Linked DNA regions of Homo sapiens: all the other regions are linked to region 1. Evidence: fine-mapped expression QTL. A gene starts in region 1. Each other region holds a variant in brackets. All regions are shown on one strand. Distances are between the middles of the regions.

Region 1 (4,187 bases):
TCAAACTTGAAAGAATGAAGAGTAGCTGAGCAGGTTTCAGAGCCCCAGTAGGAAAAGAATCCGTGGAAATTTGTGGGGCCATCCACCCCTGGCTGGGCCTCAGTCCTAGGCCAATAGCAAACGGGTTTTTCTGCTCTGGAATATGGAGACCAGTGCAGCGGAGCCCACCACTCTGATTAGGTCGGGGGAACCTTGGCTTTCAGACCCAGACAGCCGAGAGAGAGGGTATTATGGACCTGGGGAGGGGCCAGGCCTGGGGCAGGGGGCTTTCTCTGATTATGGCGGCTGACGTAGCCCACCCCACTGTGATGTTCCCACTAGCATGGAAGTCCCGAGTCCCTTCCTTCTCCGCCTGGCCAGGTGTGGCTTCTGGGCAGGCTCCGACCTCTGCGTGCCCTTGGTCTGGAAGCCAGCCCGGGAGCAAGCGGTGAGGTTTGGCCAGCCCCGTCCTGGGCCGGCGAGGTACCTGCCAGACTGACCTAGTAAAGGGGCCAGGCCCGAGGAACTCCCTCCCTCGCTCCCTTCTGTCTTTGCCTTCTGCCCGCTCTCCCTCGTCCCTTTTCTCCGCCTTTTCCGCGCTCCATCTTGCCCTCCTCCCTCCTTCGCCCCCGCTCCTACTCTCCCCTTCTTCCCCTCTCTCCCTACCCCCTCCCTTTCTGGGGCAGGCGTTTCTCCGAGGCGCACTGAGGCTCCGGGGCGAGTCCGCGCAGCGCGAGCTGGGGAAAGCCGTCCGGGGCTCCCGATGACCCTGCACTCCGCCGGGAGGCCGCCCTTCGGTAGGGGCCGCCCCGGGGCTGGCGGGGCCCGGTCGGACTGCCCCGGCTCGCGGGAGGTGGCGGGCGCGCTCAAGAGGGGTTCGCTGGGAGGGACCCCTGAGCGCTGGGAGCAGGGGCAGCCTCAGCCCCGGGCCCCGAAAAGCCGCAGTGAGTAGGTTGGGGACTGGCTGTTAGGCCAAGCCGAGCCGGGCGAGCTTTCAAGGTGGAGGTGGCCGCAGGAGTCCGGGGCGGCTCCGGCCCTGACCACTACCCTGCAGTGTGCGTCCAGGAATCGCGCCGGGAAGTGCGCTGGGTGCGGCGGCCGAGGGTGACCGCGCGTTCAGCCTGGACGCCTGGAGATAGTGCCAGGATGCCAGCGCCTCGCCTGGTCACTGCGGGGACCGCAGCTGGACAGCAGGGATCCCCCTCAAGCCGGGTTCCAGGAGTTAGGGTCTCCCCAGGAAAGGAGATTGCGCTCTTCCTAGCCCGGACCCAGGGAATCCCGTGCCCCGCCCGCAGGGCCCAGGCGCCGCGCCCTCTCCGCGCTCCAGCCTACCGCAGCCCCACCACCCCGTTCCCCGATCGGCTCCGGACTCCGCGGGCAGCGGGCGCCCCTCGGGGTCCGCGCAGGGACCGCCACAGCTCGGCTCAGTGCAGTCGGTGCGCTCTGCCCCCGTCCCAGGCTCACTGTGAGCCTCTAGCTCCCCCCGTAGCAGCTTCTGGGCGCGCAGGGTCCGCACCGCGTGTCTCAGGACACAACAGTGGATACGTGGGAGGGCGGGCGGGGGCCTGGGGTACGCGGACGTCCGGAGCGGCCAACTCGGCCTCTGGGCCTCTGCCCTCCGGGACAGGCGCTGAGTGGGAGCGGCCACAGCGTGGCTCGCGTCCTCTCCGGATCCCCGGCCCTTACTCGCATGCCTTGACTTTGTGCCTCTCTGTTCTATGCAGGAAAAGCCGTGGAAACACACCCGGATTGAAATGCCCCTGGCCCGCCTGACCCGACCCTAGGAGAAGCAGCCGAGTTACCCGACATCGTGGTCAGCAGGAGCTGGGTCGGTGGCTGGATGCTGCAGCAGCAGGGACTCAGCGCCTGGGAGGGCTCCTGGGGCAGGGAGAGAAGCAGAGATGCAACATTTTTAAAATTTCACAAAGCATCCGGCTGCACCCAGGTCCCTGGAACAGGAGACAAACAGAATTAATGTTTTATACCTTCGGGTATAGGTTTGAGTTTTTTCCCCCTCATGCCAAGTATTTAAAACCTCTAGAAACCCATGATTTGACAATCAATGATTGCGCGATACTTTCAATTTGAATATTCAAAGGCTTAACAAAATGGACTATCTTCTGCAGAAATCCTGCACACAGGCACCCCACAGAGAGTCCAGAGAAACAGGGAGTGAGACCCCTTTGGGTCCTGGCCCTTGCTTTTATTATAGTTTGAGCATTTTGTCCTCCTTCCCACAGATAGAGCAGATGTCCTCAAAGATGCTCTGTATTTCAGCCTTCAGGGCAGCTAAGAAGCCATGAGTGACTTAGGCTGCCCTGGCCATGAACACCGGAGCCAGACTGGCTGGCCAGACTGATTCCCGCATCCCCCATCTGTGTTTTGAGGGGAAATCTCAGGTTTTGAGGAATGAACATGGCAGCTAGTGGGTGTGGCACAGCAAGAAGTCGCTCTGGGCCCAGGTGGCAGGCCAGCGGCCTAGCAGAGGCCTTCGCTCTGCACCTCCTATTTTTCTGGCTCCGCCTGGCTACCAGCGGGCTTCCCTCCCCCTTTCATCCCGCTCTTCCTGGGCCCGACACTGGGGTTTCTGCTCAGAATGACTGCCCATTAAGACCCTTTCCTCCTCCCCACAGAGCTGGGGATGCCAGGAGCCTCATCCTCTGGAGACTTTCTGACTCTGGGTTTCACCACCGCACTGCGAAGTGCCCTCTTTGCTTTTTCGCCTTCTAGAGCCACCCCTGCCTTTTTGCTGTAGGAGCACATGTTAGGAAACAATGACAAGTTTGGCTCCTGCTCATTTTAACTGAAAGGATGTGGACTTAGGTTCAAGCCTTCTCCCATTGGGGTGAGAAGGGGGAGGGACTTGGGATCAGGCTTCCCCCTTGGTCCAGGCCCAAGCCCCTCACTAATGACTTGGGATTCTACTGGGTCATCTTCTGTGAGTACTTACTGTGCCTCTTCCATGTGATTTGGAAGGTGAGGAGACAGGAATGGTCCACAGAGGGAGAGAGTGCCAGGCCAAGTCCTCTCATAGCCACCCGCCCCCTCCACAGAAGGGGACAGCAAGAGAAGAGAGAGGCATGGTGAGGTTCCTTTTGCAAATAACCAAGATATTTCCAGGATTCAAGACCAGTCCATGGTTTTAGGCCTCTGCTGTTTATTCTCTGAGTTCTCAGAAATGCAAAAAGTGTAGTTTAGCCCCAGAGGCCTCAAGAAAAAGATTGGGGTGCCCCCAAATGTGTCAAATACAGAGGGAAACACACAGAGCTTAGGGAAAGGGCAACTGAGAATGACAAGACTGATAGGAATTGCTTGGCAGCTGAAGCCACATCTCTGGGGGAGAGGAGCAGGCCTGGGAACACCTGAGGTGGCACCTGGCAGTGGAGGGCAGGATGGATGTATTGAAATCTGACAGCTTCTGGAACTTCTTTCTACAAATGCCCCTGAGCCTGTGTCCTAGGTTTCCCTGATGGACCAGACCTGAGGAGGGGAAGGACAATGGGGGTGGAGATGGCACCTCCCCTCCCTGCATGCCTTCTTCCTCGCTGTGCCTAGGCCTTGCCCCCTCTGAAGGAACAGTGAACCAAGCAGCTTGGAATCTAGGGATGGTCTCTTGTCCTCATAGCGTCTTCCATTACTTCTTTTCTTCGCTGCTCTCCTCCTTTTTGTTATACTCTTATTTTTTGATTTGCTTTTAAAAACCTTCTTTGTTGCATTTTTGTTTATTTCTTTCTGTGTTTCTTTGTCTCTCTTCCTGTCATTGCTTTCTTCCATTTCTTATCTGTACTACTGGTTTTCTCCCTGGCTTCACGTGTCTCTGTGTTCCCCTATGCTGGGGTGTCCTCCCAGTGCTTTCAGGCTTCATCTCCTTCCTAACCTCTCCTTTCTATTTTTTTTTTTTTTTTTTTTGAGATGGAGTCTTGCTCAGTCGCCCAGGCTGGAGTGCTAACCTCTCCTTTCATGTGGAGATGGACAGGGATGGCAGGAGCACTGAGTGCTCTTGACAACACCATTGAAGATGATGCTGACGATCAGCTACCCTGTGGAGAAGGCAGGCCAGGCTGGGTGAGAGGGGAGCTCCTTGGAAGTCAGGGGGTCTGTAAGGACAGCAAGGATCTCTTTGTCCCAACCTCCAGCAGCCTTTATGGGTGCTTCTGTGTTGGCCTTGTTTCTGGGATGGCCATCTCAGTGCTGTTGCTGGCTAGCGA
Region 2 (4,187 bases), 71 kb before region 1:
TAGTAACAGTTTCATTAGTACCACTTTCTGGGAAGAGCTGGTCACCAAAAGATTATAAACCAGAATCATTCTCAGACCAGGTGCTGGGACAAAAAAGGATTTGACCAGTCTTAAACTGAATTACTTTTTAATGCACTAGAAAGAGCCATACATTTCATTGGAAGACAGCAAGCATACAGGACATTGTTAAAACTTTCCAGGACTAGGAAACGCTGAGGTGACAGAAAGGAAAGAAAAGAAGAGAGGCAAGAGAGTTGACAATAGAAGCAAGTCTTAATGTTGGATGAAAGGTACACCAATTCAGGAAGGAAAGGTATAGAAGGAAAATCAACCATCTATTCATCATCCCATGCAGGTATGCATCCCTCTAAGCATCCATCCAATAATGGAATTATTTCCAGCTAGAGAAACCAACCAATGAAATAAATTATCTTCAGCAGAAGGTGGGGATGATGGAATCAGGGAAGGTGTCATGGAACATATAGCATTGGGTTTGGATCCTGAAGAATAGATGGTAATCAGACTTCTTGCTTAGATCCTGGGGTGTGCAGATGCATCTTAGGACATAAAATATTAGCACTGGGAAGAAAATCCAAGGATTTTAGGCTGATGTCTATAACATTTTTGCTACAAACTCCCTTATTCAAACCAAATCTACTGTAGAACTTCAGTATAAGAATAAAAATCGTGCGGTTTTGGGGGGCTATCTGGAGCTCTGATTGCTCATGTTCCCCCACATTTCCCTGCCATTCTCACTCTGTTGGCACCTGCAGGCACCATAACTATATTCCAGGGTTCTTCAGGTCACAGCTGGATCCCCCTGACCTGGCCAATCTACCCCTCTTTTTAGCAAGATCCCTGCTAGCTGGTCACAGAGAGTGGCAGTGAGTGGCTGTGAAACATATTGCATTGGTCTTCATCAAGCTCTGAAGCTGTGAAGACTATGTGTTCGGTCTTTGTGGGTCTCTTGTGAATAAAGAGGAGGTAAATTCCTAAAAAACTGACCAAGTGACTTCTTTCTCAGGCTTGATACTAACAACCACTCCCCTTCTCCAATGTCTTTCATAAAGGAATCCCTTGCATCATGAGGGCCATTGGTTAGCAAAGCTGAACATTATCCAGAAAGCTCCTCTTGACCAGCTGTGATGTTTCTCATGAATCCATTGTTAGGGCTACTCTCACTTGCGAAGGCTACACCCCAGGCCACCATGAGCCTTGGAACTTGGGCAGTTGGGTCTGACCCCAAATACAAAACTAATGCTGGGATCTGAAGAGTCCATTCTCCAAGAAAGTGGTCCTTACATGATGGTCTCAGGAAAAGTTAAGTTTTTTCAATAAAGCTCTTTAGTCTTGAAAAGCCAAAATTAGATATTGCTTGAATCAAGGAACAAAAAATCGGATATCCATCTGCCTCCTCCAGCTGCCTAACCACAGGTTATTCCCATCCTAGCTCAGATGGGCAATTCTAGATTCAAGCCTTGATCTAATAAGGAAAGAGACAGCCCTTTCCTCTGCTCCATCCCTCACTATGGTACTGCCTTGCTATAGAATTGGGGTGGCCACTGGGGTAGGTGGACTCTCCTCATTCACCTTCTGGTCTGGGACGGTAGGTCTGGAGCTCTGTTTAGGCCCTTTCTCTTTCCTGATGCCCCACTCTCAGCAAATTTGAGGCAATGCCAAATATGTAATCCAGGAATCTGCTTTGCTCTACAAGGTGATAAAACTCCCATCTATGGGCACTGAAGAGCCCTCCCTTGCCCATTGCCACATTTCTATTCCATATGCGATATGTGCTCCTAGGTTTCTAGCCCCCTTGAGGGAGTATCTACAACATAGCCTCAGCCATGGCTGTGTCCCTGGCCTTTAGGAGATACATATAGGTTCCTTAAGGGGCTGCATCTGAGGTCAGGACAAGGGAATGCCATCATACTCTGTCTGCAACCTAATCGCTGCCATTCAAAAATATCCAAGGTTTTTCATTTCTGAAGTCATACTTTAAAAACTCACATCTGCTGCAAACCTAATCCTCTGGTGACTTCTAAAGAAAGAAGTCTTCTGCTCAGCTCATCGTATCTTTATAAAAGGCCATTTCCAGGGTTTGGC[G/A]TCTCCTGTCTAGGATTGCTGTACGAAAGCGAAGTCTTTTACCAGCCCCTCTGCAGCATCATTGGCTTCCCTGTCTCCTAAGTAGGGGTATCTTGCTGCCTGGGGATTCCAGGTACCTGAGGGATTAATTCCAGGAGCATAATGAAGGCAGGTAGAGACAGGCCTGGCAGGCAACAGAAGGCCCTGGGTATGCTGAAGACAGAGACATTCAGTATCAGGATGTAGCTGAATGGAGGCAAGTTAGGGTCACTGTACCAAGGCTACTTCTCCGATGACAGATGGGCCATGGATTGTTGGCTGAGATCAAGGAGAAAGGGCTATTTGTTGGGAGCTCATTATGCACCAGGTGTTTCATTGTGTTAATCTCATACAGTTCTCATGATTACCCTTTGAGATGGATATTATTACTTTCATTTTGCAGATGGGGAAACTGAGGCACACAATGGTTAAGTGATTTGCCAAGAGTCACACAGGTGATAAGCAACATAACAGGCTTTCTAAACTAGGTCTAGTCCCAAACTGTACCACACTGCTTCTCAATGACAAGGATTTTAGTGTTGCACTGGGTCCTTCTTCCTCTCCCAGTTGAAGAGGGCCCTCGCTTAGATGGAGGCAGGTTATGACTTCATCAAGGGTAGCTCTAGCCTGGCACAAAAGCCTCTGCAGATTTGGATCTTAGCAAGTCACGCTCGAGACTCAGTATGGAAGCTCTGAAACCTACTGATTTCCATCTTAGAATCTGAGTTCCCTGGACTCCTCTTCTCTTGGTGGGCCAATCAGCCAAGATAGGATAGGACCAGCTAGTGACACACCCTTAGGATTCACTCAGGACCTGCCACTTAGAGTGTCTGGGACAAGGGTCTGCTCATGGTGAGGCCTGAGTCTCTGGCCCCAGACCAGCCCCTCTGCACTGGAGATCCAACAGTCATATCTCTTGCACTCACCTCTATACAGTCTCTACAGACTTGGGGCCCCAGTTTGCTGCTTGTTCAAGCCTTACTAAACCAGGTGTAGGTGGAAACCAACCAAACAAACCAGAACCACTTCAGTTCTGAGGCAGATGCAGCTCTGTCACAGTTTGTAATTCTAAATTTGTTTGTGCAATTATTTGATTAAAGTCTGTGTACCCCACTAGACTAGACTGTAAGCTCCAAGAGGGCAAGAACCTCATCTGTTCTGCTCAGCAAGTACTTGTTCAGTGAATGCTCTGCCAGGGGTCTCTTGGTCTTGTCCCCTACCCTGGGACACAGTGTATCTGCGAACCCTTTCTGCTCCGGTGACCCCAGTTTCTGTAAAAGGCAGGCAGATGCAGCTGCTTTCTCAGGTGGACCTGTCCGCTGTCATTTCAGTCGAAAAATACCAAAAATAAAACCTTGCGGGGAATTGTTTGGGTCTCTCAGTTCTCGTCACTCCTCATGTGAGAAGGCTGCTGACAAGGTTCTCGTGGACAGATCTCTCCTCTCTTGGCTGGGCAACACCATTTCTTGGGGAAATTGGCAATTGAGGGAGACTGGATCAGGGTAGTCCAAGCCCAGACTTTAACTGGAGCAAGGAGGGTTAGGATGGGGCCAGGAATCATTTGATGATTAACCTGCAGTGTCGCTCAGAGAAAAAAATGGGACTTGCTCGGGCAGAGACAAGGCAGGCAGTGAGGCAGAAGTGGAGTGTACTTGGAATCACAGGTCCTGGGCTTGGTTGAGGACACTGTTACTTACAAGTATAGTCGTTTGGCAAGTCACTGAATATCTCTGAGCATCAATTTCCTTCTCGGTAAAGGAAGGGAGCGGAAGAGGAATACGTTGTACTGAGCCTCTATCTGCAATCATTAGTGTCAAAATCTCTATGGAACATCATGCAAATAGGAGTGTGGTGATTTCAGAGCTCCCAAGAGTTAAGAATGTGACCAGGAAACACATGGACCTTTACCACCCATTCATTCAACAGACCTGAGTCCCTGGGAGCAGAGAATGGGTACAAACAGCCTTCTGTGCTTGACCTGATCTGCAGGAGGCTCAGAGGAAGGGAGGTGTGGTGTGGAAGGTGCGGAGAGTGCCGGGGAAAGGATCCCTGGGAGTCTTGCCTGT
Region 3 (4,187 bases), 93 kb before region 1:
GGGTTCTGTGCACCATAGTCAGGTGCTGCTGCTGCTGCCTGAGGGTGTGGAGGGCTGCAAGGAACAGGTGTTTCAATGCTGCCCTTTGCTTTGGATGCTCTAATCTGTCCAAGCTGACATCACAGCCTCTGAGAGGTGAGTGCATATGACCGTCTAGATTAGATAAAGTGACTCATCGTAATTTACAAACTGTGATTTAGTAATCCGGTTCCTTGACTCAGAGTAATAAGAGATCCATGATAACAGTGGATTTGGAGGAAACTTGGGGGAGATCCAGATAGCATCAGCCCACAGTGCTATCCCTCCTAGCAATCTTTGCACTCATTGTTGATGTGTATTGTATGTTCATGAATCTAGGTGACGATATGGTATAATCTGTCATCACTCTGTGGCATATTCTCACTCCTCTCTGTAGTTCAGGCAGTACCATAAGACTCCCCTCAGGGCCCAGGCTCAAGCCTATCCGTGATTGCAAGAATGGCTATCCCTTTTGGGTGCTTACTATTTGCCAGGCACTGTTGTACTGTTTTACACACATCCAATAATCTAACCCTCACAAGAATTCTATAATGTACATACCCAGAGGAGACAAGGTTGGTGGCGGCAGGATCAAACCCAGGCACTTGACTCGCAGGTCTGGGCTCTTAGCTAGCAAACTATGTTACCACTGTGCAGGCTGGAATGTCTATTCTCCCAAAAACTCAGAGCCAAGCAGTGAGGGATGAAGGAGCCAGGTGAGGCCCTGCTTTCTGAGCAAGATAGCTAGGTGTTATAGAAGAGAACTAGATAAGGCTGTGGTTCTCACATGTGATCCCTGGACCGGCAGCCTCAGCATCACCTCGGAATTTGTTAGAAATGCAAGTCCTCTGGCCCTGTCCTGGACCTACCAAATCAGAAACCCTGGGAATGGTGATTTGGATGCATGACAAAGTTTGAAAATCACTAGAGGCCAGCCACGGTGGCTCATGCCTGTAATCCTAGCATTTTGGGAGGCCGAGGCGGGCTGATCACAAGGTCAGGAGATCAAGACCATCCTGGCTAATACGGTGAAACCCCATCTCTACTAAGAATGCAAAAAATTAGCTGGGCATGGTGGTGGGTGCCTGTAGTCCCAGCTACTTGGGAGGCTGAGGCAGGAGAATGGCATGAACCCGGGAGGCAGAGCTTGCAGTGAGCCGAGATCGTGCCGCTGCACTCTAGCCTGGGTGACAGAGCAAGACTCCGTCTCAAAAAAAAAAAAAAAAAAAAAAAAAAGAAAATCACAGGAAAAGGGAAGCTGGAGGCTAGGTTCTAGGTCTATCTTTGCCCTTGCCTAGCTAGGTAACCATAGGCAGGTAATTTCATCTCTCTGGTCCTATTTCCTCATTTTAAAAATGAAGGGCTCACTCTAGATTTATTCACTTTTCATTAATCCAGCAAACATTTATTGAGTGCTTACTGTGTGACTGATTCCGAGAATGCAGAGACACGAAGCTTTCAGAATGGAACGCAATGAGAGCCAGGTGGCTTGGGATCATCTGTGGTTACCACTCCAGTTTCAACCGTAGTTAATTCTTGCTGAAACAATTGTTAGAAAGACTCTCTCTAACCTCCCACCCTTTCTCCTAACTCTAATTTATCTTCACACTGTTGCCAAAGCCACTTTTAAAAGAAGCGTGACTATGACCCCGTCACTCCTCAGTGAAAAACCTTCCATGGCTCCCTATTGCCCATACTTTCCCAAAGGAACACAAATGGAACACAATTGGAAACACATTTCCAAGGATCACAAGCAGCTTGGAACACAGTTCCAAGGACCAGAGAGATGGAACACAATTCCAAGCTGCTTGTGATCCTTGGAAATGTGAGAGGCCTCAGGCATAACTCCGCCTGTGCCGCCCAGGCCTGTAGGATGGCGAGGAGGAAGAAGTCCCGGCCAGCAGAGGTTCTAGGTTCTGCGTAACCTGAGTCCAGTGGCTAAAAAAAGAAAAGACTAGGATTCTCATGTAACATTTGGCAAAACTCTACACTTCCTTGAGCCTCACGTGACATTTCTCCTAGATAAACCTGGCTAAATTCCTGCCTGTATTTCAAAACCTACAAAAAATTTGGAGCGACAGAAAATGGGTGTGTTGGCTCAAGACTCAAGACTCTGAACAGTATGAGTTTGGAGT[T/C]TGTCGCAGCAACTGGGGCCATTGTCTTCAAAAACCAGCATCCTGAATAGGGTCCCTGGGGCTTGATGACTGCCGTTAACATAGTTGGGCTGGAGAACTTGCTCTCCAACTTCAGATGCAGCCACTGATGTCTATATGGTTGTCTACCCCTGAAAAAGAGTAAAGGAACTGTTATCAATTAATCAATGAGACTTTATCGAGCACATACTCTATTACTGTTTTTATGCCAAATTTGCTGGTTACGAAAGAAACCTAAGGTGCTTCCTTGCACCAGAAGTCTGCCAAATTTTCTGCAATCCAGGGCTTGGCATCATTTAATAAATTGGGCCATCCAAACTCCATCGGAGGTGGGTCTGAGTCAGCTTAGCAATCTGCCTGGAACTTTGCTTTGGAGTCTGTGCATCTGCCTGTGAAGTCTGCCTCAACTGGTGCAAAATGGTTGCCTTGTTTTGGGAAGATAAATGGTCTGAGTTGCATCATGAGATGTTCAAGTGGGACTGGAAGGCTTCGAAGAAAGAGGGAGAGTCAAGATGCTCAGAGTCCTGTTGGACTCTTAAAAAACCTTCTGTCTCTGTCGCAGAGTGGAAAGCCCACCAGAGCCTTAGTGCCCACTTCCTGTGGTGTGACTGAGCTTAGGGCTCCCTGAGCTCAGTTCTTACTTTGTTATTGTGAGGGCATTGGCTGGTGTTCAACTGATATTTCTTGAATTTGTTGCATGTAGAATATCTAGGTTGGATGCCATTGATAGTTTTTATCTTTATCCCTTAGCTGGGTTTTTAGAAATGCTTTTCTGAATGTGCCCAAGATGTTGATTTTGAAAGATACTTTATGACCCACTGCTTTCTTTGTTCTGATGGGAAGATATTTGTTCTGGCTGCCTCTCCTCTACCTCTCCCCACTTCCACTGGAATGTAAGCTCTAAGAAGTCAGGAGACTTACTTTCCTTGTTCACTGTTCCATCCTTAATGCCAAATACAGACTGGATGACAGTGGGATGACATTCAGCAAATATTTGCTGAATGAATGAGTGCATGAATGAATGAATGGATGGATGGATGAATGATCAGCTGTTTGGGACTTAACTTTCTTGTGTGTGTGCATGTTGTGGGGAATAATGTGATGTGGTGATTATAAGCTATGGAGTCAGATTGCCCAGATTATAATCCTGGCTCTTCTACTTATAAACTGTGCATTTTAGCCAAGTTTCTTAACCTCACTGTGTTTCCTCATATGTAAAATGAGGCTAATACTTCAAAGCATTGTTATGCAGATTAAATGAACTAATATGTGTAAAGTATTTAGAACAGTTCCTCGCTATATGATCAGTGCTCCAGAAGTCTTAGCTTTCGTTGGCTTTGTGAGCTGGAAGGCACACATGGAACTCCTGGAGTTGTTTTATCTCCTTCTGCCTCCCTCCACTTTTGTTTTTTTATGGTGTGATTGTGTCTAGTTGTGGGACACATTAATTAAGAGAGTTTTTTTAAAAGAAAAACGTACTCATGCCGATCAGTTTATATTTATTGTGCACCTGTTACATTTATTATACCTTTTTCTAAAAGAAAATTAGTATTTTCTCCCACAGATAGTGATAGCAACACTGGGTTCAAGTCAAAATCTGTCACATTCATTATTAATGAAAAAGTAGTAATAACAGAACTAGCTACCATTTATAGAGTCTTTTCTATATTCTGGGCATTGTGCACTTTGGTGGACCACGGATCATGGATACCCAGGTATTGACTGAATGTCAGACTTTGTCTCTGGGTTCACTGAGGCCAGGCTTAGCTTACTTTGTTCATTAGTCTCACTCTAGTGTTACTATGGCCAACAAATGCCTCAGGTAGAGTTAATCCTTAATTGAATTGACTGCTCTATCTTTGGAAGCAGATTTCTTTTTTTCTTTTGGACCTTCAAGGTGTCTAAAATTTTGAGTTGTCGTTATCTCTTTCTCACTCTTTCCTCTTTTTTCTTCCTACACTGACATTTCTATTTATATCTCGTTTTCATTTTCTCTGTCTCTTCATTCATTCATTT

Evidence for each region. PIP is the estimated chance that this variant, and not a neighbour inherited with it, causes the effect. A credible set is the group of variants that fine-mapping cannot tell apart.
Region 2: its variant is the best candidate, but not a certain one, in a credible set for the expression of POU2AF3 in sun-exposed skin (GTEx, PIP 0.82).
Region 3: its variant is the best candidate, but not a certain one, in a credible set for the expression of POU2AF3 in esophagus mucosa (GTEx, PIP 0.68).

What each region holds. Positions count from the first base shown.
Region 1 is chr11:111,296,183-111,300,369 of GRCh38, reverse strand. It overlaps POU2AF3 (POU class 2 homeobox associating factor 3), which reads right to left and starts at 1,824. Exons shown (of 5, transcript NM_001271458.2): 1 at 1,782-1,824. The coding sequence starts at 1,788. COLCA1 (colorectal cancer associated 1) reads left to right here. Exons shown (of 2, transcript NR_169237.1): 2 at 1,704-4,187. RefSeq lists a silencer at 685-884.
Region 2 is chr11:111,367,125-111,371,311 of GRCh38, reverse strand. All of the region lies in intron 1 of POU2AF1 (POU class 2 homeobox associating factor 1), which reads left to right. Among named protein-coding and RNA genes, the nearest start is that of POU2AF1, 10 kb to the left of the region's middle. RefSeq lists an enhancer at 3,437-3,596. The variant G/A (reference allele first, on the strand shown) is at 2,104.
Region 3 is chr11:111,389,237-111,393,423 of GRCh38, reverse strand. It overlaps a transcript of BTG4 not described here. Among named protein-coding and RNA genes, the nearest start is that of POU2AF1, 12 kb to the right of the region's middle. The variant T/C (reference allele first, on the strand shown) is at 2,154.